4 linked regions of the Homo sapiens genome follow. The protein of the gene in region 2 binds, or shares a complex with, the protein of the main gene of each other region. Each region holds a gene or a part of one and is shown on either strand. Other genes may lie near its edges.

What was found.
Region 1: SNRPD1 (region 2) and SNW1 share a complex: the UniProt entries of both Homo sapiens proteins name them as parts of the minor spliceosome.
Region 3: SNRPD1 (region 2) and SRRM2 share a complex: the UniProt entries of both Homo sapiens proteins name them as parts of the minor spliceosome.
Region 4: SNRPD1 (region 2) and CWC27 share a complex: the UniProt entries of both Homo sapiens proteins name them as parts of the minor spliceosome.

Annotation. Positions count from the first base shown.
Region 1 is NC_000014.9:77,757,801-77,766,201, reverse strand, and holds the start of SNW1 (SNW domain-containing protein 1), read left to right. Parts: upstream 1-5,045; 5' UTR 5,046-5,074; coding exon 5,075-5,088; exon of another isoform or gene 5,089-5,434; intron 5,435-8,401. UniProt on the Homo sapiens protein: Involved in pre-mRNA splicing as component of the spliceosome. As a component of the minor spliceosome, involved in the splicing of U12-type introns in pre-mRNAs.
Region 2 is NC_000018.10:21,615,160-21,622,830, forward strand, and holds part of SNRPD1 (small nuclear ribonucleoprotein Sm D1), read left to right. Parts: intron 1-7,565; coding exon 7,566-7,642; intron 7,643-7,671. UniProt on the Homo sapiens protein: Plays a role in pre-mRNA splicing as a core component of the spliceosomal U1, U2, U4 and U5 small nuclear ribonucleoproteins (snRNPs), the building blocks of the spliceosome.
Region 3 is NC_000016.10:2,755,448-2,763,118, reverse strand, and holds part of SRRM2 (serine/arginine repetitive matrix protein 2), read right to left. Parts: intron 6,786-7,671; coding exon of another isoform or gene 6,755-6,785; coding exon 6,513-6,754; intron 5,648-6,512; coding exon 5,540-5,647; intron 5,339-5,539; coding exon 5,174-5,338; intron 4,650-5,173; coding exon 4,572-4,649; intron 4,135-4,571; coding exon 4,072-4,134; intron 3,980-4,071; coding exon 3,947-3,979; intron 3,768-3,946; coding exon 3,717-3,767; intron 3,551-3,716; coding exon 3,458-3,550; intron 3,373-3,457; coding exon of another isoform or gene 3,330-3,372; exon of another isoform or gene 2,997-3,329; intron 2,819-2,996; coding exon 2,620-2,818; intron 1,559-2,619; coding exon 1-1,558. UniProt on the Homo sapiens protein: Required for pre-mRNA splicing as component of the spliceosome. As a component of the minor spliceosome, involved in the splicing of U12-type introns in pre-mRNAs.
Region 4 is NC_000005.10:65,009,776-65,017,446, forward strand, and holds part of CWC27 (spliceosome-associated protein CWC27 homolog), read left to right. Parts: intron 1-7,671. UniProt on the Homo sapiens protein: As part of the spliceosome, plays a role in pre-mRNA splicing. Probable inactive PPIase with no peptidyl-prolyl cis-trans isomerase activity. As a component of the minor spliceosome, involved in the splicing of U12-type introns in pre-mRNAs.

The sequences.
Region 1 (8,401 bases), on a different chromosome or scaffold from region 2:
CGTGATCATACCACTGAACTCCAGCTTGAGCAACAGAGTGAGACCCTGTCTCAAAAAAAAAAAAGAGATAATTTTCATATATATATAAAAGTTGAAACAATAGTTCAATAAACACCTATACAGTCCACACTCCCCCATCTAAGCTTAAATAATTGTTAACATTTTGCTTTCCCTTTCATGCTCTCTCACACTCTCTCACTATAAACACACACACACACACATTTTTTGTTGTTGAGATAAACTATTTGAAAGTAAATTGAGGCTGGGCATAGTGGCTCAGGCCTATAATCCCAGCACTTTGGGAGGCCAGGTGGATGGAGCACCTGAGGTCAGGAGTTCGAGACCAGCCTGGCCAACATGGTAAAACCTCGTCTGTACTAAAAACGCAAAAATTAGCTGGGCATGGTGGCAGGCGCCCATAATCCCAGCTACTTGGGAGACTGAGGCAGGAGAATCACTTGAACCCGGGAGGCAGAGATTGCAGTAAGCCAAGACTGCGTCACTGTACTCCAGCCTGGGTGACAAGAGCAAAATTGTGTCTCAAAACAAAAAACAAACAAAAAAGAAGAAAGTAAGTTGACACATTTCATCCCCAAATCCTCTGGCATGCATCTCCCAAGAATAAGAACGTTCTTCTACTTAACCACAATGTCATTAATACTCCTAAGAAATTTAGCAAAAATTCTACAATGTTGTCTATTATCACTCCATATGCAACTTTCTCCAAATGTCCCAAGAATATTTTTTATAGTTTTCCCCAACTGAACCAGAATCCCATCAAGGTTTACTAATTTTATGTGTCATGTCTCATCAATCTGTTTTCATCTATTCTATTCACATCCATTCCATGACATTGACATTTTGTAGAGTCTCAGTCAGTTGTCTTGTAGAATGTCTCACATTCTGGATTTTACTGATTGTTTCCTCATGCTTTTAAACTTGTTACTCTATCCCCTGAATTTCTTGTGAACTGGACATTAGGTCTGGTTTGATCAGAAAATTGGTGAACTTCCGGCCAGGTGCAGTGGCTCATACCCGTAATCCCAGCACTTTGGGATGCCAAGGTGGGTGGATCACTTGAGGCCAGGAGTTCAAGACTAGCCTGGCCAACATGGTGAAACCCCATCTCTACTAAAAATGCAAAAATTAGCCAGGCGTGCTTGCTCATGCCTGTAATCCCAGCTACTCGGGAGGCTGAGGCAGGAGAATCGCTTGAACTAGGGAGGCAGAGGTTGCAGTAAGCCGAAATCGCACCACTGCACTCCACCCTGGGCAACGGAGGAAGACTCGGTCTAAAAAAAAAAGAAAGAAAGAAAGAAAGAAAGAAAGAAAGAAAGAAAACTGGGGAACTTCCTATTAAAAGCACCTAGTGTCAGATTGTTCCACTGTTAGTGAAGCAAAAGTGATGACAGCCAAATCTCTCCATCGTAAAGATACGTTATTTCTTTCGCAGTTCCTAAGTAATCATTGGCTCTAGCCTTTTTAACTATGCTTTAATGCAAACCAATATTTTAATTAAAAAAAAATTTTAAACATTGAGAGGGCACGTAAAACACATCCAAAAAGTAAGAACGGTGTGGTGGAGCAGCTCTACTTTTTATCAGAGAATGATTATAATAATATAGCCATAATAACTAAAGCATAATGGCATCAGAGCATAAAATACTGGCATTGAAGTAAATTTAAAAAAACATCCTATAGTAGAAAATGTTAGTGGGAAGGTACCCCAGAAATAAAATTGAGTTCAACTGCCTCACTTTGCAGATGCAAAACCTGAACCTTAATAAATTAAGGCCAATTCATTAAAGCCAGAAAGCATAATTAATTTTTGAGCGCTTACTCTATGCTGGGCATTTTTCTAAGCACTTCACATGATTAACTCATTTAATCCTCCCAATAGCTTTATTGAGGATAAGTTATACTGATTCCACGCCCCTCACCCTTTTTATTGGCCAGTGAGAAAACTGAGACAGAGAGAAGTGACTTATCCAGAATCTACAGCTCATAAATTAGGGAGCTGGGATCAGAAGGCAGGAAAGCTGACTCCAGAATATGTGCTTAACTTGTCCTCCCTACCACCTCACAAGCTATATTACTTGTGGCTACATAGCCACACCTACTTAGGAATCAAATTAGGCCCTAGGTTCTCTGAGAACAATTCTACTCTCTATCCAGAATTCTAAGACTGGAGTGAATTGATTGCTTCTTGCAACCTGGCGCATTACTGATTCCAGCATGCACTGGGCTCTCTACATGAGCAGGCAGCTGCTAATTACCTATGATAATGAGGGATGGATAGGCACTGAAGATTCAGCATAGCTTAACACCAAACCCCCTCCCCAACAAAACCAAAGAAAGCACTAGGCCTTTGGGTATAATATTGTATCACGTTTGCAGTAGATTTGCTTTCTTAATTGTTTTGATAGGATTGCTATTAAAGTCAGTTTCTATTCTTTACACACCCCCAAAACAGCGAGGGACTATGACTGGTGGAAATGCCTTGCATGATGTGCCTCTGTGGAAAATGAGAGTGGATTGCAAAAGCTCTTCTCCACCCTGTTCTTTCAATCCTGCATCCCAGGTCTTGGTCTATGTCTTACTGATTTCCCATGTTAATTATTTTAACCTTGTCCTCAGTAGCCTCCTTTGTCTCTCATTGCCATAGAAACCCATTCTGCCTTAAGAATTGTCTTTCTTGCCTGTTCCTTTGACCCAGGCCCTCTACTTAAGTCCTCCTTCAGCTGCAAATCACCTGCTGAACTAAATCTAAGCTCCTTGATCTTGGCTTCCAGGACGTTCTATAATTTGCTTCTCTGTTTTTCTCCTTTTAGAAATAATACATTCCTGGAGCAGAGGTTGAAGTAGATCACTGTCAACCAAAATATTAACTGTAATAACTAACATATTTACATAGTACTTAAGAGTTAAGTAAAAACATATCCACCTACATTACCTCATTTAAGGCTCATACTCTGCTGTATTGTATATAATTATTTTACATTTATATAAATATAGGTAAAGCAGATAACATGATCAGCATTTTAAGTTCAATAAAACTGGGGCCCAAATAAATTAAATGACTTGCCCTATAAGAATTTATTGGTGCTGAAGCTACATCTTTTTTTTTTTTTTTTTTTTTTCTGAGACAGTTTCACTCTTGTTGCTCAGGCTAGAGTGCAACGACGCACGATCTCGGCTCACCACAACTTCCGCCTCCCGAGTTCAAGCGATTCTCCTGCCTCGGCCTCCCGAGTAGCTGGGATTACAGGCAAGCACCACCACGCCCGGCTAATTTTGTATTTTCAGTAGAGACGCAGTTTCTCCATGTTGGTCAGGCTGGTCTCAAACTCCCGACCTCAGGTGATCTGCCCGCCTCAGCCTCCCAAAGTGCTGGGATTAAAGGCACAAGCCACCACACCCAGCCAAAGCTACATCTTAAACTCTAATCTTCGGGCTCCCAGGCCATGCAGGTTATATTACACAATGTGATTAACAATCCTGTATTTACCAAAAGATTTTTTCTTTTTGTTTTTTTGGTTTACATGCTGTGGCAGGCAGAATTCTAGGATATCCCCCAAGATCTCCTCCTCACCCAACCCCCACAGTACCTGACCTACATAACCCCTGGGGCCATGACTATGAAGATTCTGATTCTGTTATGCGGTGTGGCAGAGTTGATTTTTTTTTTTTTTTTGAGACAGAATTTTACTTTGTCACCCACGCTGGAGTGCAATGGTGCAATCTCGGCTCACTGCAACCTCCACCTCCTGGGTTCAAGCGATTCTTGTACCTCAGCCTCCCAAGTAGCTGAGAAAACAAGAGCACATCACCACACCCAGCTATTCTTTTATATTATTTATTTATTTATTTATTTATTTATTTTTATTTTTTGAGACGCAGTCTCACTCTGTCGCCAGGCTGGAGTGCAGTGGCGTGATCTTGGCTCACTGCAACCTCCGTCTCCTGATTCACACGATTCTCCTGCCTCAGCCTCCCCAGTAGCTAGGACTACAGGAGCGCGCCACAACGCCCAGCTAATTTTTGTATTTTTAGTAGAGACAGGGTTTCACCATGTTGCCCAGGCTTTGTCGAACTCCTGAGCTCAGGCAATCCGCCCGCCCCGACCTCCCAAAGTGCTAGGATTACAAGTGTGAGCTACTGCGCCCGGCCAAGAGTTGATCTTAAAATAGGGAGATTATCCAGGTGCTCCTGATCTAATCACATGAGCCCTTTAAAAGCAGGGCATTTTTCTCCAACAGTGGCAGAAGAGGAGTCAGAAAGATGTGCCTCAGAAAGCAAATATCCATGTTGTGAACTACCAATAAATAGGGCTCATGTGGGAAGGACTCGAGAGTGACCCCTAGGAGCTGAGGGTGGCCACCACTAACAGCACAAAACAAAACAGGGAACTCGATCCCACAACCGCCAGGAACTGATTTTTGCCAACAAGAATGAGTTAGGAGATGGATTTTTCTCCAGAGCCTCCTATGAGATTTCAGCCTTGTCATACCCTGGGCAGAGAACCCAGACACTCGGTAAATTACCAAGGATTACGAAATATCTCCCCAAGAGAGTGTTTTGGCGGGTGAGAGGATATGGTTTAAAGAAAAGTTTTGAGTGTGAATGTTTTCAGAGAGTCCAAGGACTCTCCATTAGCTAGTCTCATTATTACCTGTCGTTTTAAACGCCCTATCACTCTTACTTAAAGTAGCTGTCCCCGGGAAGCTTTTGTATTTTGTACCCCTTCTCGGGGAACGGGACTGAGTAAGGAACGTAATAAAGCGGCCTAAAAGGCATCTCCCTGTATCTTTGATATTTTGCCTAGGGAACGCCCTATCATGTCGCATATAAGCGATCGAGTTATGCATTTGTTGCTAGCTGAAGAGATTATTCCTTGATAACCGCTTGGTCTGGTCAGAATACAAACGGTACTCCTGTTCAAAGAACTACAAATCCCAGAAGGCCTTTTCGGCCAGAGCGCCTGCGCATCGCGCACTCCTTCCTTTCCGCTCCTCATCATCTGGAAAGACCCGCCCAGCGGTGCTGTCGCTCGCGCTGGAAGAAGCGGAAGAAGATGGCGCTCACCAGGTGGGTTGTTGATTGGGGTCCTCGATACGGAAGGGTCTGGGAGTACCAGTCTTCTTCATTTCTCTTCCCATACCCTCCGGGCGGTGACCTGACCCGGGGCACAGAATGACGTGGGCCAAGACTACGGCTACGCCCTCCCGCTGGCCGCCGCTACGACTAGGCCTAGTCGAAGCTGGGGTCTTTCAGCGGTTTCCCGGGTTTAGTTCACCCGCTCACCGAGGCCGAAAGCTGCGGAGTGGTCTCAGACACTGAAGAGTGGGTTTTTCGCGTGAGCATCTTGCGGGGAGCGGACAGCGCTCCCTCAGGTCCGCGGCTCGGGCGAACGAGATGGGGTTGGTGACGGTAGTGGCTTATTTGGGCGGAGTGAAGCGCGCGGGCTGCGACTGCGCGGCTTTCCGGCCGTTTGCCTGTGGTGGTCTCTCTCCTTTCGCTGTCCACTGGGTGTCCCGAAACAAGGATTCCTGAAAAAAGAGGCCCGGAGCTGAACACAGATTTAAATGAGCCACAGTAGTGACCGCCGTCTGCTGATATGCGCCACTGCTCCGCATTTTAACTTTGGAGCTTAGAATTTCTTCCGTAGATAGAACCACCTCAGTTTTGCTGTTTCCGGTTACCTTAGTAACCGTCTGTAAAGTGCTCTCCGCCTTTAAGAAAAAGATGCTTTTCAGTGGGAGAGTCCGAGAAGTTACGCTACTCCTACTAGTTCCCAGCCTTGCTGCCCCATTTTAAGTGGAAAAACTTTCCATGCGAACTCAACAGGAAAAGGCTAGTGTTCAGGAAGGTTATAGATAAAGTAATCCTTTCAGGACATCAGCTTGAGCTCTTTTAACACCCTTCATTCTCCTCACGCATGTTTTTTTTTCTGGCTGATGACAGTATGACTCCAAAAGTTTTAATCAAAAAATTATTTTGGGAATTACTGTTGGTGCCTTGCTCTGTCCTGGGGGTTGTGTACACAGAAGAAAATCTGTCTTTGGCAACAGGGAAGATAGGGGTGCAAGGTATACAGACATAAAACAATTACAGAACACAAAATGTGCATTTGTGTAATACTAACCTTAGTGCAAAAAGAATTGAATGGAATAAGTTATGTGGGCTGGAGAGTTTTCTCCCCACCCTCGTTTCTAAAATTTTTTTGCTTTTTTTTTTAACTTTATTTTTTGAGATGCGGTCTCGCTGTGTTGGCCAGGTTGGTCTTGAATTCTTGGCCTCAAGCAGTCCTCCTGTCTCGGCCTCCGAAAGTGCTAGGATTACAGGCATGAGCCACCATGCCCGGCATCTGAAATTTTTTTAAAAAAAAACTAGAAATAGGGTGTTACTGCGTTGGCCAGAGTGGTCTCCAACTCTTGGCCTCCATCAATCTTCTCACCTAGGCCTCCCAAAGTGCTGGGATTGCAGGCATGAGCTACCATGCCCAGCCAAGAGTTTGTTTAGTAAATGTTACAGGCAGCAAACATTTGAGTGCTCCCCAGGTGTGAGACACTGTGTCATAGACTAGTAAAGTTATGAGGGGAGACTTTGTGGAAAAGGTGGAATTTGAAATGGACACACAGGAAAAATTTCTAGAGATGTCATGGGTATTTTTTATTTATTTTATTTTTTGATATAGGGTCTCACTCTTGCCCAGGCTGGAGTGCAGTGGCCCAATCACAGCCCACTGCAGCCTCAACCTCCCAAGGCTCAGGTGATCCTCCTGCCTCAGCGCCCTAGAGTAGCTGGGACTCTAGACGCTTGCCATGATGCCCAGTTAATTTTTGTTTTTTTTAGTAGAGATGGGGTTTTGCCATGTTGCCCAGCCTGGTCTTGAACTGGGCTTAACTGATCTGATCTACCCATCTCAGCCTCCCACAGTGCTGGCATTACTGGCGTGAGCCACCACATCATCTGGCCTGTCATGGGTATTGCGTGCTTAAAATTGCAGTGGCAGAATGCGATCTTTAAATGGCCAGTCTTGAGGACTCCAGAGCTTTCCATACCTACCATCTGGTGTTCCTCAGTATTCTTTGTAATATCCTTTAAATCAGTAAACACATTTCCCTGAGTTCTGTGAGCTGCCCTAGCAAATTAGTTGAACCTGAAGATGAGGTCATGGGAACCCTGGTTTGTAGTTAGTTGGCCAGTGGCCTTGGACCTACTGTTGGCATCTGAAGTAAGGGCAGTCTTGTGGGACTGAGCCTTCAACCTGTAACATCTGACAGTATCTCCAGGTAGATAACATCAAAATTGAATTGAATTAGAGGACACTTGACTGGTGTCCAGTAGACACAGTTGATAGCTTGCTTGATATGTGGGGAAAAACCATCACACATCTGGTATCAGAAGTGTTGTGTGTTGTTGATTGTTGAGTGAAATAATAGGAGAAACTGAGTTTGTTTTAATTTTATACTCTATCCACATGGAGCTTACACTCTAATGGGACAGAATTGGAATTCTAGTGGGACAGAATTCTAATTAGCTTACATTCTAATGGGACAGAGTGAGTAAAATCATAATGCAATTTCACGTAATACATGCTAGGAATAAAATAAAGACCGGGTTAGAGAGTGACTCAGAGTTTGGGGTGAAGTGGCTATTTTGGGTAAGGTGGTCAGAAAACAGCTCTAGAGAGAGGTAACTGAGCAGAGACAAGAGTGCTGAGATGCAAGCTGTTGAAAGATCTGGGGCTACTCTAGGCATACTGCCTGTGGGATAGCCCTGCCCAGCAAGGAGCAATCAAAAAAGAAAAGATCTGGAGATCTGGAGAAGAATTTTCTATAAAAGCATACGAAAATTTGTTCTTTTTTTTTTTTTTTTTTTTTGTGGCAGAGTCTCACTCTCACCCAGGCTGGAGTGCAGTGGAGCAATCTCAGCTCACTACAAACTCCACCTCCCAGGTTCAAGTGATTTTCCTGCCTCAGCTGGGATTACAGGCGTCCGCCACCACGCCCGGCTAATTTTTGTGTTTTTAATAGAGACAGGGTTTCACTATATTGGCATGGCTGGTCTCGAACTCCTGGCCTCAAGTAATCCACCTGCCTTGGCCTCCCAAAGTGTTGGAATTACAGGTGTGAGCCACCTCGCCCAGCCGGAAAAATTGTGATTGATTGCAATAGATAGATAGATAGAGAAAAATTGTGATTGATTGATTGCAATAGAGAAAAATTGTGATTGATTGATTGCGATAGATAGATAGATAGATAGATAGATAGATAGATGATTAGATTGATTTGATGGCAGAAGGAATAGCCAATGTAAAGATCCTGAGATGGCTTGTTTAAGAAAAGATAAGAAGGCTGTAGTGAAATAAAGATGGTGAGTGCTGGGGAAGAGTGTA
Region 2 (7,671 bases):
TGAATTTTGCCTGCGCTAGAATTTCATATATTTGGAATCACAAAGTATTTTTGCGTAAAACTTCTTTTAGTTACATGTTTTTGAGATTCATCCACATTGTGAAGTGTATCAGTAATGTGTTCATTTTTATTACTGGATATTAGTGCATTGTGTGTTTGGAAGTTCTGTATTTTAGGCCGGGCGCAGTGGCTCACGTCTGTAATCCCAGCACTTTGGGAGGCCGAGGCGGGTAGATCACCTGAGGTCAGGAGTTTGAAACCAGCCTGACCAACATGGTGAAACCCCATCTCTACTAAAAATACCAAAAAAGTAGCTGGGCATGGTGGCAGGTGCCTGTAATCCCAGCTACAAGGGAGGCTGAGGCAGGAGAATCCCTTGAACCCAGGAGGTGGAGATTGCAGTGAGCTGAGATCACGCCATTGCACTCCAGCTTGGGCAACAGAGCGAGACTCCGTCTCAAAAAAAAAGAAAAAAGAAAAAAAAAGCTCCGTATTTTAAAAAATTACAAGAAAATAAAATAAAAAGTTATGTATTTTGTTTACAACTACGTTGAATATTCTTCAGGTTTTTGGAGGGAAACAAATTTTCGTGGGTAAATACTCGAGTGGAGTTGATGGACTGTAACATAGTTATGTGTTTAGCTTTTTAAGAAATTTCCAGACCATTTTCCAAAGTGGTTGTACCATTTTACACTTCCATTAACAATATATTAGAATAACAATTGGTCCACATCCTCACCAGTATGTGGTGTTGTTTGCTCAGTCTTTAATTTTAGCCATTTTAGTGGGTATGTAGTGGTATCTCCTTAGGGTTTAGTCGGTTTTTTGCTTATTTGTTTGTTTTTGAGGCGGAGTCTCACTCTGTCACCCAGGCTGGAGTGCAGTGGCATGATCTTGGTTCACTGCAAGCTCCGCCTCCTGGGTTCACGCCATTCTCCTGCCTCAGCCTCCCGAGTAGCTGGGACTACAGGCGCCTGCCACCACGCCCGGCTAATTTTTTGTATTTTTAGTAGAGACGGGATTTCACCGTGTTAGCCAGGATGTTCTCAATCTCCTGACCTCGTGATCCGCCCGCCTTGGCCTCCCAAAGTGCTGGGATTACTGGCGTGAGCCACTGCGCCCAGCCCAGAGTTGTAGAAATTAGATCTGTGTCCTGGATACCAGTTCTTTGTCAGATGTGTTTTCTCTCAGTGTGTGGTTTACATGTTCATTTCCTTAATAGTGTCTCTCTTCTTGTAGCTCAGGCTGGAGTACAATTGTGCGATCTCAGCTCACTGCAACCTCTGCCTTCCAGGTTCAAGCGATTCTCCTACCTCAGCCTCCCAAGTAGCTGGGATTACAGGCGCCTGCCACCACGCCTGGCTAATTTTTGTATTTTTAGTAGAGACAGGGTTTCACCATGTTGGTCAGGCTGGTCTCGAACTCCTGACCTTGTGATCCACCCGCCTTGGCCTCCCAAAGTACTGGGATTACAGGCGTGAGCCACCATGCCTGACTGATCGATTTTTATGTATCTGGAACTCTTTAAGTCTTTTTTTTTTTTTTTGAGATGGAGTCTTGCTCTGTTGCCAGACTGGAGTGCAGTGGCGCACTCTCGGCTCACTGCGACCTCCACCTCCCAGGTTCAAGTGATTCCCCTGCCTCAGCCTCCCGAGTAGCTGGGACTACAGGCATGTGCCACTATGCCTGGCTTATTTTTTTTGTATTTTAGTAGAGATGGGATTTCACCACTTTGGCCAGGCTGGTCTCGATCTCCTGACCTTGTGATCTGCCTGCCTTGGCCTCCCAAAGTGCTGGGATTACAGGCGTGAGCCACTGTGCCCAGCCTATATCTGGAACTCTTGGGCTCAAGTGACTATCATCCATCTTGGATTACTTTTGGAAAATGGTGTTAGTGGTCCAGGTTCGTTTTTTTTCTGTATGGATTTCCAGTTATTCCAGCATCATTTGTTGAAAACACTTTCCTTTGCCTGTTACACGTCTTTGGCACCTTTGTAAAAAATCAACCATATAAGGCCAGGCTTGGTGGCTCATGCCTGTAATCCCAGCACTTTTCGGAATCCAAGGCAGGCAGATCACCTGAGGTCAGGAGTTCGAGACCAGCCTGACCAACATGGTGAAACCCCGGCTCTACTAAAACAAAAAGAAATACAAAAATTAGCTGGTTGTGGTGGCGAGTGCCTGTAATCCCAGCTAAATCAACCATGTAAATGTGGGACCAGAAATAGATCTGTTTGCTTGTATTGTTTCATTGATCTATTTGTTGTTCCTTATGTCTCGATTACTGTAGTTTTAACTTGTATATGTACTGCTCTAGTCACATAATTTGTCTTCCTAGAGATTATACTTTGGTCTCTTGTCTTTCTAAAATCTGTTTCTGAACATTGGCCCTAGGTTCTCTTTTAAATGTGAATATGAGCCTGGTACTCCACTTCATTGATGAAAATCCTTCAGTAGCTCTCCTAGAGGAATTCTTTAACAGAGCTTAGGCTTTCCATGAAAGGAACCTGCCTAACTCCTCTCTACTCATAGGACCTAAAATATTGAACTTAACATTTCATCGGCCAGGCGTGGTGGTTCATGCTTGTCATCGTAGCACTTTGTGAGGCCGAGGCAGGCAGATCACTTGGGCCAACATGGTAAAACCCCGTCTCTACTAAAAATACAAAAATTAGCTGGGTGTGGTGGCATGCGCCTGTAGTCTCAGCTACTTGGGAGGCTGAGGCACAAGAATCTCTTGAACCCGGGAGACGGAGGTTGCAATGAGCTCAGATTGAGATTGCGCTATTGCACTCCAGCCTGGGCAACAGAACAAGACTCCATCTTTGTATCTATAATTACTCTGTGTCTTATGCTGTATTTTTTCTTTTGTTTCTTCTTGCTGCATATTTCCAACTTTTCAGGCTTCTTACTAGGAGTCCCCTAATACCTGACTCCCCTCTCCACATGCTACAATATATTCTTAGTAAAAAACCTGTGTGTAGCTGGGTGCAGTGGCTCACGCTTGTAATCCCAGCACTTTGGGAGGCCAAGGCAGGCTGATTGCTTGAGCTCAGGAGTTTAAGACTAGTCTAGGCAACATGGCAAAACCACATCTCTACAAAAAATTTAAAAATTTAAAAAATATTAGCCGGGCATGGTGGCATAGTCTCAGAAAAAACCTAAACTAAAAACCTCTGTTTAAAAAAAAACACAAAAAAAACCTCTGTATATCTTTATTGCTTTCTACAACTTAGTTATTTTTACGTATCTTTTATGTATCTGAGCCACCGCGCCTGGCCACATAAGGTTTTTTTTTTCCTTTTATTTATCTTCTTTGCTTCCAAAAATGATTTGAAGAACTTTTATAGTAAAAGTTCTTACTAACTGGGATAGTAAATTCGTGTAAAAGATAAAAACAAAAACTTGATAATGGGAGGAAACCATTAGTTCAGAATTCTAGGCTTTTCTAGTTATAATTGATTGTTAAATTTGGAGCTGAATAACTCTCTGGTGAAATAAAGTGTTACCAATTCGTTGAGAAAAACGTTTTCTTGATGTCATATATAAAAAGAGATTCAACTCATGAGTCTTCTTAAAGTTTGAGGCTTGTTATATCCCAGACCAAGTAATTTCTTTTTTGTGATGGCTGTCTATACCACTAAAAAAAAAGAAATTAAAAAAAGGCATTTTAAGGTTGGTTTCCCTTTATTCATTAAAACATTTCAGCCAACATTATTCAGTGCCTATTACAGTCTAGGATTAGATATAGAGCTTACGATCCCTACCCTCAAGAATAGTCTAGTGCGGGAGGATAATAGGTTATCTTATGTGTACCATTTAGTGTGATGATAGGATCTGTTAATTCAAAGTATATATTATAGACTAAAAGTTTTTATATGAACTGTGTATTGTATGATAGTGTGGGGTTCATTTTCTTAGATGTGATTGTGAGATTATGGTTATATAGGAGAATGTCATTAGAAAATGCATGCTGAAGTGTCGTAATGCCTACAACTTACTTTGAGATGGTGTGATCAATTTTTTTTCGTTTGTTTTTTTGACAAAGTCTCACTCTATTGTCCAGGCTGGAGTTTAGTGGTGCAGTCTTGGCTCACTGCAACCTCTGCCTCCCAGGCTCAAGCAATTCTCCTGCCTCAGCCTCCCCAGTAGCTGGGATTACAGTCAAGTGCCACCAAGTCTGGCTAATTTTTTTGTATTTTTAGCAGAGACGGGGTTTCGCCATGTTGGCCAGGCTGGTCTCGAACTTCTGACCTCAGGTGATCCGCCTGCCTCGCCCTCCCAAAGTGCTGGGATTACAGGGATGAGCCACCACACCTGGCGAAGACTGTCTTTAAAAAAAAGGGCCAGGCCTGGTGGCTTACGCCTGTAATCCCAGCACTTTGGGAGGCCAAGGTGGGCAGATCACCTGAGGTCAGAAGTTCGAGACCAGCCCAACGGGTGAAACCCTGTCTCTACTAAAAATACAAAAATCAGCCAGGTGTGGTGGCAGGCGCCTGTAGTCCCAGCTACTTGGGAGGCTGAGGCAGGAGAATTGCTTGAACCCAAGAGGTGGAGGTTGCATTGAGCCAAGATCATGCCACTGCACTCCAGCCTGGGTGACAGAGCGAGACTCCGTCTCAAAAAAAAATAGAATTTTAAAAAAAGACGGAGTCTTGCTCTGCCACACAGGCTCCAGGGCAGTGACACAGTCATGGCTCATTGCAGCCTCAAAGTCCTGGGCTCTAGCGATCCTCCCACCTCAGACTCCGAGGAGCTGAGACTACAGGCATGAGCCAACAGGCCCAGCTAATTTTTTTATTTGTATTTTTTTCGAGATGGAGTCTTGCTCTGTCACCCAGGCTGCAGTGCAATGGCATGATCTTGGCTCACTGCAACCTCTGCCTCCCAGGTTCAAGCGATTCTGCTGCCTCAGCCTCCTGAGTAGCTGGGATTACAGACCTGCACCACCACACCTGGCTAATTTTTTGTATTTTTAGTAGAGATGGGATTTCACCATATTGGCCAAGCTGGTCTCCAACTCCTGACATTGTGACCCGCCCACCTTGGCCTCCCAAAGTGCTGGGGTTACAGGCATGAGCTACCGCACCCGGCCAACTAATTTTTTTTTTATTTTTATTTTTGTAGAGACAGGATCTTGCTTTGTTGACCAGGCAGGTCTCGAACTCCTGGCCTCAAGTGATCATCCCACCTTGGCCTCTCAAAGTGGTGAAATTACAGGCATGAGCCACTGCACTGGCAATTGACAATATTTGTAAACCCTTTAACTTTTCATCCTCTGCAAAATTTTATAAAAAGGGGAGAACGGAAATTTAGATGAAGTGAGAAGTGGATAGATTGTTCATTATATATTATCAAGGCAACTGGCTATTCAGTTGGGGAAAGTAATAAAGACAGATTTGTGCCTTACACTGCATAAAAAAGATCAATTCCAAGTAGATTAGAACTCTAAAAGTAGAAGAAAATAAGACACTATTTTTTTACAATCTTGGCATAGAAAAAACCCTTTCTTAGGTAAATTATGTATCCCAGGAGGGTGAACAAATTCAAAACATAAAAGTGAAAAAAGTTTGTGTGACTAAAGAAACCATAAACAACAAACTTGAATGACTGGCAAACCAGTAGAAAATAAAAGAAAAACTCAACCTAATTGAGAATGTCAATAATGTGAACAGGTAATTCACGGAAGAAATAGTTTTCCCATGTTAATGAAAAGATATTCAGGCAGGGCGCGGTGGCTCATGCCTGTAATCCCAGCACTTTGGGAGGCCGAGGCGGGTGGATCACGAGGTCAGAAGATCAAGGCCATCGTGGTTAACATGGTGAAACCCCGTCTCTACTAAAAAAAAAATACAAAAAATTAGCCAGGTGTGGTGGCGAGCGCCTGTAATCCCAGCTACTCGGGAGGCTGAGGCAGGAGAATGGCGTGAACCTAGGAGGCGGAGGTTGCAGTGAGCCGAGATTGTGCCACTACACTCCAGCCTGGGTGACAGAGCGAGACTCTGTGTCAAAAAAAAAAGATAAGATATTCAATCTCACAGGTAATTAAGGAAAAGCAAATTTTTTCCCCATCAAATTGACAAAAATTTGAAAGACTTATAGCAACTTGTGTTGGTGAGGGTTTGCATAATTGGGTTTGTAATGGGAAAAAATTGAACCAAAGTAATGTCCGTCAACAGGCGGTAATAAATTTTGACATTTCCATATAGTGGAATACTTTCCAGTTCTTAGAATGTTATTTTGTTATTTTGGCTTTTTGTGAGATGGAGTCTTGCCCTGTCACTCAGGCTGGGGTACAGTGGAACAATCTCACCTCACTGCAAATGCTGCCTCCCGGGTTCAAGCGATTCTCATGCCCCAGCCTTCCAAGTAGCTGGGATTACAGGCGTGCGCCACCTTGCCTCGCTAATTTATTTTTATTTTTTTTTAATTTTTTTTGAGATGGAGTCTTGCTCTGTCCCCAGGTTGGAGTGCAGTGGTGCGATCTTGGCTGACTGCAATCTCTGCCTCCCAGGTTTAAGCGATTCTCCTGCCTCAGCCTTCTGAGTAGCTAGGATTACAGGCGTACGCCATCCTGCCCAGCTAATTTTTGTGTTTTTGTAGAGATGGAGTTTCACCATGTTGGCCAGGCTGGTCTTGAATTCCTGACCTCAGATGATCCGCCCTCCTCGGCCTCCCAAAGTGCTGGGATTATAAATAGGCATGAGCCATCACGCCCAGCCTCAGTTCTTAGAATGTTTTGTATGTTGAAATGGAAATATGTCCAATATAAACTGCTAAACGAGGACTACAAGTTATAGACGTGAATAAAATATGACCCAATTTATGTCAAAAGAAATCTGTATATATCCTTCTGAATGCATATAAAGTGATCTGGAATAATATTCCTACATACCCACAGTGCAGGGGGTTAGGAAGGGAGATTTTTACTTTATAGGCATTATAATAAGCTTGTAATCTTTTTACCGACTGTAATTCTTTATTTCTTTTTTTTTTTTTGAGACGGAGTCTCGCTCTGTTGCCCAGGCTGGAGTGCAGTGGCGTGATCTCGGCTCACTGAGAGCTCTGCTTCCCAGGTTCACCCCATTCTCCTGCCTCAGCCTCCCGAGTAGCTGGGACTACAGGTGCCCGCCACCATGCCCAGCTAATTTTTTGTATTTTTTAGTAGAGACGGGGTTTCACCATGTTAGCCAGGATGATCTCGATCTCCTGACCTCGTGATCCGCCCGCCTTGGCCTCCCAAACTGCTGGAATTATAGGCGTGAGCCACCACGCCTGGCCTATTTCTTTTTCATGGTTTATAATGAGTCTAAGATCTTGTATGTCTGGATTTCAGGTTTGAGAATTAGAAACGTCCAAATGACAGTTTATGTTAGTATTGTTGTGTTCCTTCATAAAGGTTGAGGATATAATTCAGGAAAGCTGAAATTGTTATGCAGATTATTGATAGGAATTGATGCAGATAGCATCTAGCAAATTTTCAACATCGAGTTGTTTCACCCTTTCACCTTAATAAATGTGATTTTAAAGTGTTACAGGTAAAAATGGTTTTATTCCTATTTATAGATTTTTGATGAAATTGAGTCATGAAACTGTAACCATTGAATTGAAGAACGGAACACAGGTCCATGGAACAATCACAGGTACGGAGGTTGGACTGCTTTTATAACAT
Region 3 (7,671 bases), on a different chromosome or scaffold from region 2:
ATTGCTCATTGGCCTGGGGACTTGTTATGGACCCTTGCCTCGGTGGTGTTCCAGATTTCACTTTAGGATGAGGAGATGAACTGGAATGACTTTGTCTTGATGGTGTCTTAGATTTCTGTTTAGGTGGCGGAGAAGAACTGGAGCGACTGCGTCTGGGTGGCGTTCTAGATTTAGCTTTAGGTTGGGAGGATCCAGAGCGACTGCGCCTGGGTGGTGTCTGTGACTTTTGTTTAGGGCATGGGGAAGACCCTGAAAGGCTGCGCCTCAAAGACAAGCGAGATTTTGCTTTGGACCGTGGTGAAGAGAGAGACCTGCTCCGCCTTGAAGAAATGCGAGATTTCTTCATTTCTGGGCTTGAATTGGACCTGCTTCTTCTTTGAGATGTTCTGGATTTGTTTTTCCGCTCTGAAGATGAGCCAGATCTGCCTCTTCTTTGAGGTGTTCTAGAGTGAGATCTTCCACGTCTAACTAAGCTTCTACTGCGGGATCTTCCTCGTCTTGGTGTCCTAGACCGAGACCTCCCTCTCCTGGCTGGTGTTCTGGAGCGTGAGCGACCACTGCGTCTAGCTGGGGTTCTAGAGCGTGAGCGGCCACGTCTGGCTGGGGTTCTGGAGCGTGAGCGGCCACGTCTAGCTGGGGTTCTAGAGCGTGACCTGCCACTTCTCCTGGCTGGTGATCTACTACGAGACCTGCGTCGTACTGGTGATCGGGTCCTAGATCTGCGCCTAGCAGGTGTTCTAGACCGAGACCTGCCCCTCCGGGCTGGTGTTCTAGACCGAGACCTACGCCTGGTGGGAGTTCTGGATCGTGATCTCCGCCTGGCAGGTGTTCTAGAGCGGGACCTGCCCCGGCGGGCTGGTGTTCTAGAACGAGATCTACCCCTAGTGGCTGGGGATCTAGAGTGGGACCTCCCTCGCCTTGCTGACCTAGACCTGCCTCTTCTCTGGGTATTTCTGCTCCTAGACCAGCCTGGTCGCTGAGGAGACCTAGAGCGGCCACGTCGCTGGGGGCTTCTAGATCTTCCCCACCTCTGTGCAGACCTGGACCTACGCCACTGGGGAGATCGGGATCGAGAATGACCTCTCTTGGTAGGGGTTCGAGACCGAGATCGCCCTCTCTTAGCGGTGGCAGGGCTACGGGACCTCCCCATCCTACGGGAGGGGGTATGAGAATGTGATTTATCCCGTTTTGCTCGGCCATGTGAGCGATTCTTAGATGTGGGAGAAGAAGAAATCTCTCGGTGGGACCCTGGAGCTGGAGCAGGTTTAGGACTTTCTGGGGAAGAGCTGGCATGCCGAGAAACTTTGGTAGGTTGAGGGGATGGTGGGCTGCTCTCTGAGGAAGAAGACTGGGGAAGTTTCTCGGGAGACTTAGGTGGTGAACGGTCCCGAGTTGGAGAGGCCTCAGATGGGGGGTTCACTGGCTCCTGGCTTAAGGGGGTGGTTGCAAGGGGTTGTGGGGAGCCGCCATGTCGCTCAGCAAGGAGCGGAGTGGGAGCAGGTGGTTCTGGGCCTGTGCTGCTCCTTTCCGGAGAGGGGCTAGGTCGAGTTGCAGATTTCTAAGAGTGGAAGAGAGAGCAGGGATAGGGATTCATAAACGCCAAAACTTCACATCACCCCTAAGATCCCAACACCCTTTCCAATGATAACTTTTCTTTTACACACCCTCTGACCACAAGCGATCACTTTCATTCAATAACAAGGAATCATATAAAGCACAGTGGTGAAAACATATGAATATATGGATAGCCAGAATCTTAAAACTAAAAGAAACACAAAATGCAAATAACTAATGCACTACTACATTTAACAAATACCACTACAAAATGTTATAAGAATGGAAAAAAACTATCTTTAAATGGAAAAATAAGCAGTTTCCTAAAGCGAATGGCAACTTCACCTTTGAAGAATAACTCTATTAAACGAAAAGAAACAGCATGAATAAAGATGTGAGAACATGATTTGTGTGAAGAGTAAAAAAGCAGCCCAGGATGGGTAGAGTACAGGAAATGAGAAAAAGACCAGACTATTAAAAGCCTTAAATATAATTCAAAAGCAATAAGGAAGTAGTTAAGTTTCTGAGGTCAACCAACTTGTAATTTGGAAAGGTAACCCTGGATGACATGGAAAATTGATGATAGAGGCCAAGAATTCAGACTGTAATCACTAAAGCAAGAGGAAATGATTAATGCTTAAAATTGGAACAGAAGACTACTGAAGACTATTTCAGTGTTTCATTCAAACTATTGGTGGCAACGCAATGGATTAAAAAGTTTTGGTGAGACATGACCAGCATTTAATGAAAAAAGAGAAGAAACTAGAGGCATCATACGGAGTACACAGATAAGATACAACGTTTGTTCCAGTTCTATCTATGTATAAACAAGACACAATATAAAACCTAACATCCAGTGAGATTTGATTCTAAAGGGTTCACAATTCAGTCTAGTAACAACACTAAAAGTTCTGCAGATGCAGTAAGAGAACTAGGAGAGAAATGCAGGAAAAAAAACTGAATTTATTTATTTTAATAAGTTATTACCTCTCCCTTTCACATCACATGTCTATCCTAAATCTATACATTTGCAATCCAATGAACATCACCAACTCAGGAACATACCTCCTTCTTGTCTTTATCTTTGTCTTCATAAGGGCTGCTAGGCTGTTTCGTAGCAGTCTCCGGGCTACTAGGCCGTTGTGTGCTGGTAGTACCTGGTTCACTGAAAGGCGCATCTCCCTCCCCGCGTCGCCCTGAAGCAGGGGAAGGACTTCGCCCAGCCAAGGCAGTTGTATGAGTTTTAGCTGCAGCACTTCGAGACCTGCAGGAGTTAATTGAGGACGTGGGAGAGGAAGGAAATCAGCTCAAAGGGAGAACAGAAAACCCCCTCCCCAACTCCCATCCACCTTTCCTAACTGGACAACCCTCTTCCAAAAAGCCTTTAGTCGCACAACTCAAATCATTCACTGAAATGCAAGTACAGTCCACTTTGGTTCTTCTTTTCCCAACACAATCCCAAAGAGCGTTCTCCCTCTACCCCTTTACTCACCTCCCCCAAACATCCCCAAACCATCCACCCAGCCCACTCCCTACCCGCTTCATTCACAACTCACCTCTGAGCCCACCTCCTTCAGGAAGCCTTCCCCGATTAAGGAAGCCAGGGTAAGGATTCCTTCCTCCCCCAGACACCACGAACAAACCACCACCCCCCCTATTCTGGCAGTCCATATACATCAGAACGAAACAAAAATAACAAATAAACAAAAACAAAAAAAAAAAGAGAAGGGGAAATGTATATGTCTGTCCATCCTGTTGCTTTAGCCTGTCAGCTCCTAGAGGGCAGGGACCGTGTCTTCCGAATGGTCTGTGCAGCGCCTAGCACACCGTGGGCGCTCAATAAATATTAAATTAATTAACCCATCATTCCCTCTCCCTCCCTTCCTCCTGGACTACCCCTTACCGACTGCGGGAAGTATCGGAGGAGGAAGCAGAGTCAGCAGAAGTTGAACGGTGGGCCCGGCGGCTCTTGGGGGCTGGTGTTGTACTTCGAGACCTGAAGGAAGACCACCACCACAGCTCAGGGTACTGCTGTACCTGCCCTGGATTCTCCTCACGTATCCCTCAACCCTTTACCAGTCAGGGACATAACTCATTCAACTCCCTCCCACTAAGGTGGCGTTCACTTACTTCCTAAGCAAATTCCCCACAAATTCACTCACCGCTTTCGCTTTTTGTCCTTAGATTTACGTTTGCTCTTTGGAGTGGGAGACCTGGGAAATAAGGAAAGGTTGTTAAAAGTAACTTCTTTAAAAAAGGAAATAAAACCAAAAGTGAAATGGAAAGAGGGAGTGTTGACACAAGGAAGATCAAGGAATTGAGCTTCACTCCAAGAAAAAAAAATCACCACTCCACATGCCACTGCGCCCCCTATGAGTTAAAGAGCTCTTACCTATGCTTACGTTTCTTGGACTCAGATTCTGACCTGTTGGAAAAAAGAGAAGAAAAAACATAAGAAACACCTCTGCCTGAATTCAGCAAACCTTCTCCAGTCATTCAAGTATTCCCACCTCATACCTGTGCTTCTTCTTCTTTGAGCTTTTCTTTCTCTCCCGTCGAGGAGAGCTGCTCTCTGACCTGCTAAAGATGGATTCAAAAGCAAGCTCATCCTGCTTGGCTTCTTTCCTGGCCCTCCCACTTACAATCTCTCTCCTAAAAAGGTTTCTAAAACACTTGAATGTCCTAATAGCACTAATGCCCCAGACCTAAGCCCAGGACTTATTTCTTCTTTCTCCAACAAGCACAAGTAACTCCTTAAGTCAACAAACCTCAAAATGAAAAAGAAAATTCCAGAATCCAAAATGCTGCTGGCCAATCTTAATTAGCAGAACTGCAAACTCAACACTTCCCCACTGAGAAACTCAGGTATTTCTTCTAGTTGAGGCCTCAATGGTAACTCCCTCCTCCCTGACAACTATCTCCTGCTTTGTGGAAGCCAGAACTGTCCACTTCCAGAGAGAAAGGTACACCACAGGATTGGTCCTCTGGCTATCAGAGTCACTTTCCAACTAACTTACCGTCCTCTATCTTTCTTCTTTTTCTTCTTCTTCTGCTTTGGGGTTGGTGAGCGAGAACTGCTAGACTCCCGAACAAGGCTAGGGAAAAATGAAAAGCAGCAGAGATGGGTGGTAGAACAAACATTCCTTTCTTTTCTTTAAAAGACAGAGTCTAAAAAAATAGTAATAAAAATAAAAAAATAAGAGTCTCGCTCTGTTGCCTCAGGTGGGGTGCAGTGGCAGCAACACAGCTCACACCGTAACCTCCAACTTGTGGGCTCAAAAGACCCTCCTGCCTCCACCTCTCCAAGCAGCCTGGACTACAGGCATGTGCCACCAACCAGCTTTTTTTCTTTTTGTAGAGATGGGGTCTCACTACATCGCCCAGGCTGGTCTCAAACTCCTGGCCTCAAGTGATCTCCTGCCTGAGCTTCCCAAAATGCTGGGATTACGCGCGTGACCCACTGTGACTAACCCTTGGACACATTTTTTTGGACACCTCAACTTCAGAAGAACAAAATCTGAAGAGTTTGGGAAGAAACCAGCCCGCAAAAAGACAAAAATAGAGCATGGAGCTTACAATCAAGAAAAGAAGCTGACAGTGGTTTCTTGGCCTTGTATACCTGTAAGGTTTGGGAGGCTCAGGAGCTGGTTGTTTAGCTTCTCGGGCACGACGCTGAGGATCAAAAGAGCTGCCATCTACGTAAGAATCACTGATGCCAAAGGCAGCACGGAGTCTTTCATTCTTCTTCTCATTTAATTCTGCCAACTGGTGAGTCTCCGTGACCCTAGAGAAAAGAAGGGCAAAAGTCTGAAGGAAATATAAAGGACAGAGCCATATTCAGAACACAAGTATAAGCAGGAGCCAAATAAGGCATGGGAAAGGCAGACGAAAGCAGGGAGGAAGTCCCACGTAAGGAAAAGGACAGCAGCAGCAGCCAGCAGCCAGAGTAGAGTCCAGAGTCATCGAGGGAGAGCGCAACACTCACGCTGGCCTCTGCCCTGGGGTCTCCTCCTTGCCCCCAGGGTTCACATCCTTCTCCAGCAACATGAGTCGAAAGGTCGCCACTTTTTCCTGAATTTGCTGTTCCTCGTACCTGAAGAACAAATCCCTTCAGGGTTAAGCTCGACAGGACACTTTCCCCAGTCCCAGGTTTCCATTTCCCTCATTCCCAAAAGGGGCCCCTCCCTCTCCATGCGCACACAGAACTTTTCGCTCACCCAAAAGTCCCTTCTGTCTGATCTTTTCCCATCATCTTTCTTCCCTCTACTTACTACTCCCTCTAGAACAGTGGATTTTAAATATGCTACACCTCAGGGACCAAAAGAAAAAAGTTAAGCAAGCAGGGTTCCAAGTGCTCCTCCCCAACTTCAACAAGAATGTGCCTTTTACTTCCTGGGATTCCAAAGTAAGGGATACTGTATAAAAGGATCACCATTGCTGAAGTTTAAAACCACTGCTCTAAAAGAGTTTTCTGCCTTAATGGGCTCCTTTTCCAAAATTTCCCTTCCCAGCCCATGATTCCCACTTCTTCACGTATTCTTCTAATTCCTCTTTTCCTGCCTATGCTACTTTCCAAGGCCTCAATCCTTACATCCATTTATCTTCTTCTTTTCTACCAATGACAACACCTATCAGCTTACCTAGCTCCTCTACCTGGTCTCTGCTTTCCCATCTCTTCCTTAAAACACATTTTTGTTCCTCAATGGCCCCTCCCTTCTCCCACGTGCCTCCATTTAGTACCTCAGGCTCCCATCTATGCCCCAGACACACAGCCTTCTCATTTCCCACTCTGCACTGTCCCTTAACTGTTTTCACTTCTCTAGAGCTCATCTGCCTCCTCCCCTACCACAACTCTTTGCCAGGCCTCTTTCAACCACCCTAAGCTCCCTATACATCCCACCTAACACCCCCAGCTCTGCACTCATTCAGTGCTTGACTCTCCCCCAGCTCTCCCTCACCCCTGCTCTTCCATCATCTCCTCCAGCTCGAGGCATCGCAGCTCGACGCGCCGCTTGCGCTCGTGGTCCAGGATGTCAGGATTAGGCCGCTTCACCAGGGCAGCCTCCAGGCGCCGCAGTTCCTCCTCTCCCTTGTAGTCAGGCCGCTCACCCCGGCGGCCCCGCACCAGGGACAGGTTGCGCTGGACGTAGCCGTTGGTGCCGCTGCCCCGGGGCGTCGGCAGCCCGATCCCGTTGTACATGGCCCCGTGCCCGGGGGGGGCACCACCGCTCCTGAGGGGGAGCGGGGAGACACGGGTCAGGCCCCTGGCCCCAAACTAACCACTTACCGCCCCACACCCAAGTCCCTGCTCTCCTTCATCCCTAATTCAACATTGATCTTCACACTAAGTCTTCGCTGTATAATGCTCCACCATCCTCCTGGTCTCCCAAGAAAACCACTTCTTTGCCCTTCCAAATTTCCTTTCTACCAAATCACAGCCCAGTTCTTACAGCCTTTCTCTCAATGCCCTTGCACAGAATTCTAAATAATCCCTCCCTACACCTAAATTTTCTTCTTTTTCCACCCTAGGCAAACAAGGATCTTGTTCCTCTAAAATCTCTCCACACTGTCCCTTTTTGTTCTCCTTTGGCCCCAAAATGCACAAGTGGTGTGTTTACCAACTACTCTAATTCCTAACCTCTGGTAACCAACCAAAGCCTCCTGGTCACAACAAACACCAGACACAGATCTGTGGCACCCAACGGCCTCTAGTCCATGTCCAAAGACTCTCCCAAAAACTTACCTAAGGATTTCAGACCACCCTATACGAATATGAAATAAACTACACAGCCCCTAGGTATCTGAACAGCAGACTAGTTGGTTCAGAATGTGCAGCCTCACACCCCAACTAAAGGCCAGCATGCACATCAGAAACACACATGAACCTTGGATAATCGTCATATACTTCACCTCCCAGGTAAGGGCCATTTCCTTGATTCCAAATATTTAAAGATCCTATCAACTATCCTGATATTTTATTCCTTCAATTTCCTTCCTCTCAATAGGATTTACAACAATTTGCAGTTCCTCCCTGTCTTGCCAGCTGTCAAATATTACCTGTTTTCAACTCTGCTCTATTTAAACACATCAAACCAGCCTCCTCTGTTCCAACCGTTC
Region 4 (7,671 bases), on a different chromosome or scaffold from region 2:
CTGTCTGTGAGAAAATAAATTGCTATTGTTTAAGCCACTCAGGCCATGGTATTTTGTTATGGCAGCCCAAGCTAACTAAGACACAAAGTACAAAATAAGTTAAAATGATAATAAATGTTTGGATTGCACTTTGCCATTTGCAGAGCCCTTTCAAATCCATGATGTTTGATCCTCAGGCCACGTGAGGTAAATAGGTTGCACATTACCACCCCTCTCCACAGGTGAGGAAACAGAGGCCTGAGAAGCAATGTGACTTTCTCCAGTAATAGTGACTGAATGTAACTCAAATCAAACTCAGGGCTTCTGAGTGCATACCACAGAGGTTTCATAGAAGGTGTTAAAGAAATTCAAAGGCAGGAACAAATCCTGAGGCCCAGGGCAGTCAGAAAAGAATTTTAGGAGGAAATGGGAATTAAACTGGGCTTTGAAAAAAACAGGGACATACACCAGTGGGAAGGAGGCGGAAGGGCGTCCCAGAGAAGTGATGTGGACAAAAGTATGCTGCAGCCCACCTATGATACAGAGCAGGTCCTTTCAAAGGATCAGATGTGGGCAAAACTTGAAAATTGTTTGGTCTTGCTGAGATTTTTCTTTAAAAATAAAAAGGCTGGTTTTGCTTTTTAAATACAAGTCTCCTTTCAACCCTACCCCTAAAAAACTTAAATCAGATTCATTAAAGTTTGTAATCCACAGTCCCATAGAATGACAATCTTAGTAATAACTAGGAGCTATTTTGTTAGGTTTCTTAGAATTCTAACTTAACAGAGAAATTAGAAGCTGTCAACACAGTACACTAACACAGTACAGAGACAAATTTTGTGTATGGCAAAATTTCATAAAGAATGGCAAGGTCTTTTAACCCACATGGGGAAGGCTGTCCGAGGACAATATATGTACTTTCTCCCACCTCAAAGGCTAATCATACACTAGACAGATGTCAATCTTCAAGCAGTTTAACTGGTCCATTTGAGAAAGATAAGTGTTGGATTTTCATATCATAAAGTTAGTAGTAGTAGAAATACCTTGTTTCAGCTGTTCGAGTAACTTATTACCCTTTTCTCTGGCATTATCATGTAAGAGTTTATAAACATAATTGCTCAATGATTTGGAATTATGTATTAATACTATCAAGGAGCAAGGTGAACAAAACCAGAACTCTAGTCAAAGGTTTTGGAGGTGGCTGGCTACTCAGAAACATTTATTTATTCAGCACACATTTATTGAGGGCATTCTTCTTGGCAAGCATTGCTGGCTAGTACAAAGGCCAATTGGTACAAAGGCGAATAACAGAGCCACCATAGAGCCAGGTGTGGTGGCACATGTCTATAGTCCCAGCTGCTTGGGAGGCAGAGGCAGGAGGATCACTTGAGCCCAGCAGTTCAGGGCTATAGTGTGCTATGATTACTTGAATAGCCACTGCATTCCAGCCTGGGCAACATAGCAAAACCCCATCTCAACAAAAAAGCAGAGCCGCCACCTTCAAGAGCACCTGCAGCCTAGTAAGGGAGACAGCAGTTACACTGTAGTATGAGGAAGACTAAACCAGAGAGATATTCAAGATTCTCTGCAAGACCAGAAGAGGGTCTTAACCCTGGGGGAGAAACAGCAGGTCAGATCAGGAAAGGAATCAGGAACCATTTCTAAGATGGAGATAACACTCAGCTAACTGAGAGACAGAAGTGTATAGTGTATATAGAGGCAGCGAGGAAGAAGGAGAGTGCAGGCGTTTGTTCAGGAAACTTCAAAGAACTGGGATGTCTGGAGCATAGATGTGATGGGAGAAGGAGATGTAACAGGCTGGAGAGGGAAGCAAAAGCCAGATTATAGAAGCCACATTGGGAATTTTGGGTTTCCTTGTGTAGACAATGGAGAGCCACCAAAGCATTTAAAACAGAAGAGTTTTCATGGCTACATTTGCATTTTTGAAAAATATAAAAGACCTGAGTATTATGGACCACAAGGTAGTCCTTAGTAATTCGATGGCTGAGAGGAGATTGCCAGATATCCACCCTTGCAGAGGCAGGCTGTGGGCCCTTGGTTCTGCTCCTTTTGGACTTCCAGCTGAATGAGGTGTCCCTGCTTAGCATCCCTATTTTAGGAAGAACTAGAAGAAACTGGAACTGAGATTTCAGATAGCACTGATTAAAGGCAATAAGGAGATAAAAATTTATAGGGGGAATTAATGCTTTTTCTTTTTTGTAAGTAAGCATTCACCTAAAAGAGTTGTGCCTTTTCCCAAAGATGCTCCCACATTGCTCAAGACATTTCTGGAATTTCTCTTTTGAAATTTCTTTAATGTCCAACCTGGATTCATGTCTTTTTATGGTTGCATTTTTTAAATTTTGTACTCCAAAATAAGCACTACTCTATCTGATTTCTTATCTTCCTTACTAGACCTAGCACTGAATTGACTTTTGATGTATTCCCAAAGTTAAATCCATCTTTACAGGATGAAAGTTTTGTTACCTCTGAAGACATAGAAGAAAGTATCTGGTCAAGAAGTTATCAGCTACAAGTTTCTCGACCCTCAGTCTCAGAGACTGCCTATGAAACAGGGGTGATAATAATATTTTTCCTGCCCCCCACCACATTCAGTTATTGTAAAGATGCTACCAGACAACATGGGAAAGCTTTTTGTAGAGTGCTGCATCAGCGAGTGCTATTTTTGTTGTCTCACAGTTTGCAGGCAATTCCAAACTCTGCGTTTACCACATCGTGGTGTCTGTCTGTATGTTCTTACAGATTGTTTACTTCATGGAAGTAGGGCCTGGGTCATATTTGGCTTTGTTTTACCAGTGTCCAGCGTTGGCAGCATGCATTAAAAGCCCCCAGATGTTTTTTGAATGAATAATTGAGTCTAGCTCATTGCCTTTTCCTCAAATCACATATATCAGAAATAAATAATGCACTTGAGATTATTCAGTTCAAATAATAGACTCAGAGGCTACTTGAGTTTCTTTGAGTAGTTTGTCATTAGGAACCAGCTGTTCTCCATCTCTGAAGGGGCAAGGACAAAGGGCTAATGAAATCAATCAATCTGAAAGCATAAAAGCTCTTAAGCTTTATTTCTGTGCCCTTTACTTTGACTGCATTTAAAAATAACTAGGAACATTTTTTTTAAGTTACTGATGCTGGGACCCCATCCCAGAACAATTAAATCAATACCTTTGGAGTTGGAAGCCTGGCACTGATAGTTTTTAAAGCTACTTGGTGATTTTAACATGCAACCTGCATCGGATGCAGGGGCTCTAGAAATATGCTTTGAGAAACATTGCTTTAAACAAATAAAAAATAAAAAAAGGGGCCCTTCTCTCTAGTTCTACATCAGGTGCTATATGAGATGGATAAGAACATAAGGCATGTTCCCACTGCAGTCTTTTGAGGAAATAAAAACTAGCAATCACTAGTATGAGTGAGTGGAAAAGCAACTATCAGTATTTGGTGAGCTGTGAGAAATGAAAAGAGACTTATGCTGAGCCTGAGACTTTCTGCAGAATCTGGTAGATGTTTTAGGGAGTTTATCATCAAAATATAAGACAGTCTCTACCCACAAAAGGAAGTTGACTCTTAGCTTAGCAAGCCTTCTAGTACCAGCCAACAGGCCTGACCAGTACAAAGGGTCTGAAGGCCTTATTCCCAACACAAATCACCATGTTTGGCACCGGGAATGCAACAGTGAACAAGACTCAAACTGTCTCAAACAACTGAGTCTGTTCACAATCAAGTAAACAGGCAATTACAAAATGGGGAGAATTGATGAAAGAAATGAAATAAGGTTGGTGAGATAGGAAGCACCAGTTGTTGGAGGACTTTTAAGGGTAGACTGAGGTATTTATTTCAGTCTAATATGATAACCAGTAGTTTCTGATCAAAAGAATGCTATAAAAGAAATGTGGAAGAAATATTATTTTTTAAGCTTTGGATCTGGGAAGGAAATAGTACAGATGTACAACAATTAGGACACCTGCAACAATCGTAGGGTTGGGTGATAAGTTCCTAAGTTAGGGTGGCTTGGATGTGGGAAGAAGAGGTTTGTAGACTTCCCAATGAAAAAGATAGCTGTTTATATTATATAAGTAATTTAAATTCATTTAAATCGGAAATGAATTGCTAATGTTGGAATTCTATATTAGACTACTTATTGTGTGTCTGAGAATCAGTTCCTCTCTTGATATTTCCCATTGATACAAATAGCTATTGTATCTTAGTCTATTTCACAATTGTGGGAGAACTTTAAAAACTGGATAAGAAGTTAGTGAAGTCAGTCAAGGTCTAGTCCTTTTTGAAAAATCAGTTGTTTACTTCTGTTTGTAATTTTACACAGCCCCATACCAAAAAAACACCAAAAACAATAACAAAAAAACCACTTTCCTGTCAAACACAACCTCTCTGAAAATAGTAAACTTCCATATTTTAACATACTATATATATAATATATACTATATACTACAATATATAATAGATTACATATTATATATGATATATATAATATATACCATAGAGATCAGTTATATATAGTGTATATACTGTATATATACTATATATACTATATACCATATGTATAATATATAGCTATATATTATATATAACCATAGATTTTATATATACACTATATATAATATTGTAACACACTATAAAGTCAATGTTATTTGAGAATCTGAGCCTATGTGAAATTTTTTATTAATCAAACCTAAATTTTTGTCTTTGCCTTCAAGTGAACAAGCTCTACAATTTTCATATGTAAATGATCAGTGTGTAATTAATTCCAAAAAAATTCACTACTTTTTTTGGGCCAATTCCATAAAGAGCCGCAGAGTGGATAGTATTGAGTTATTGGGACATACATGATTGTAAACTATCAGACCCCCTGTACTCAAATTGAGTCCGTATTCTAAATCTTATTGTGTATCCTCATAGGAGACTGTAAAGTGCGGGCATGCTTTCAATTCGTACAGTCTGTGATTTATAGAGGCAAGTAGGTCAGGAATTTATTATGCTGAAAATCATAATAACTGTTTTGTTTTGCTTTTCACAATGAAGTGACCAAAGCATGTTGAAAGATAAATGGATGAAGCATTTTGATTATGCTTGTATTTCTATTAAAGGTTAAATATTATTGCCAAGTAACTAGCCATGCTAAGTATTATGATATTAAAGCTGAAGTAGTTTGTAAGCTGATAGCCCTTTCTTTCCTCTGGGTTTAGGTTTGTTATTAATCAAAATGTTGGACTTGCTTAGTGCAGTGGTGTATGAAACAAACAGTTGAAAAAGACAGCTCCTTTAACTCACGGCTCTCTGCTTTTTTTCAAATTTGTAAGGAAATCTGTTTCTTCTTGTGGACTTTATGCTGTTATTCATGTGTCTAGAGTTCATTTTTTATACCAGAGCCGACTAAATCCAATAGTTGCAAGATTCTCTCATGGCATAGAAAGGAAAAAGGTGCCTTTTTATATTCTTAATTGACAAATTCTGATCAAGTCATTTTTGAAACATGGAGAATCCCTACTAGAAATGGATATTACAGAAAACCATCTGTATTTCTGGGCAGAGAAAAGGATAATTTTTTAAATAGAAGAATATGTATATGAAGAGGTATTAATAAGACAGTAAGTTTGTTTTCTCATATCAATCCAGGAGTATTGATGAAAGTGTTTTAAAGGGCGTATGATTCCAGCTACACTGGTGTTGGCTTAGACATCAACACAGCCAGCCCGTAAGCACTTGGAACGCTGCTGCTAAGCATGTACTGAAGTGCAGTAGAGGGGTCTAGATGCCCCCGATGTGTGGTAAAGTACCTTTAACAGGACAGTCCTACCATTCTTCTGCACTTACTTCTCATCAGTGGTAATATTACAATTTTAAAGGGTGCATTTTGTGGGGGATGCAGCAAAGATTGTAAGAAGTGTTGAAGAAAAAGGCTACCTCTCAATGACTGGAGAAAAAAAGGCTTAATTTATTACTTAAGTAAAGAGGAGCTGTGCTTTTAGGCACAGTGTCTCCAAGCAAAGCAGGCTGCAAATCTTACATAGTGTTTTGGGGTCAGGAATTGTTTAGGGGCAGCTATCACCCTCAGAAGCCCCATTATTTGAAAGAAACTATTGTTGACTGGCTGGCTTTCAGAAGCATATTCACTGGAGCCAGTCTGCAGCCGACAGGCCAACTTTCAAAAGCATGTGGCTATCACTGGTTAATTGGCTTTCAGAGGTGTATTTACTGAAGTGAGTTGTCACTGATTATTTAGACCTTGGTGAGATATCATTAACTGCATAAATCTGGTTTAATTATTCTTCCAACTGGTTCTAGTGGTTTACTTAATACCATGGCTGTCGAACAGTCAGCCTTTTTCTGGGAGTTAGAGATTGTCTTACTTTCAGAAGCTAATACCTAAACGCTGTAGGAAATTGAACGCACAAGAAAATTAGATTTTGCAACTATTGTACAATACATTTTCTAATTAAGGGTGTCTACTAAAGGAATGGAAGTGTAAAAAGTCAGCAACTCCACATGTGAAATAGCATATTCAGGTATTAAGATCAGTTATGAAATTTGATACAAATTATGTATCATTAATAATATAGTTCTAAGCATGGTGGCATGCGCTTGTAATCTCAGCTCCTTGGGAGGCTGAGGCAAGGTGTTCACTTGATCCCAGGAGTTCGAGACCATCTGGGGCAACATAGCAAGATCTCATCTCAAAAATAATAATAATAATAATAATGAAGTATAAAAATGTGAATGTGACTTATTCAGTAAATTAAAGTAGATTCTAGATCATCCATATATATCATTTCTACTTATTGCTTTCCAGTAAGCTTTCTCAGGTGGGACAAAAGAAGGTAGAAACGGTACATAAGTCTCAACTCGCCAGCCCTGGTGAGCAGCAGCTACTGAACCCTTAGTAATGATGGTATCACTAAAATTGTGACATTTTATTTCCCTCCTAAAATCTTTTTAGGATTCTTCAAAATCTAGGTATACCCATGTGAGTTTGCCACACAAGTAAATTTCACTCATCATTTGTGCTGCTGTAGAGAGAAAAGAGTGAGGGATCTTCACTACTGCCTACCTACTACCCAGATCTCTGCTTATATGGGGGAAAAGATATTAGCATCATATTTGGGTTTCATCTGAAAGTTACAACAGGCATATAAGAAGTATTAATCCTACAGTTTAACCCTATCTGCTGTGATGAAGAAAAGTGTGTATAGGATATAACTGGTAGGAAAAGACTTAAGAGTTTTATTTGTATGAAAATTGAACTTTTCGCCGGGCACGGTGGCTCACACCTGTAATCCCAGCACTTTGGGAGGCCGAGGCGGGCAGATCACGAGGTCAGAAGTTTGAGACCAGCCTGGCCAGCATGGTGAAACCCCGTCTCTGCTAAAAATACAAAAAATTAGCCAGGCGTGGTGGCAAATCTCTGTAGTCCCAGCTACTTGGGAGGCCGAGGCAGGAGAATCGCTTGAACCCGGGAGGTGAAGGTTGCAGTGAGCCGAGATCGCGCCACTGCACTCCAGCCTGGGCAACAGAGTGAGACTCCATCTCAAAAAAAAAAATTGAACTTTTCTCTTTCTAAATTCATTCAACTGTTCTGAAGTCTGCTCTTTGGACTTCCCTGTTTATTCCTGGCACCTCATATGGGGCACAGCTAATTACCAACATATTTCGCTG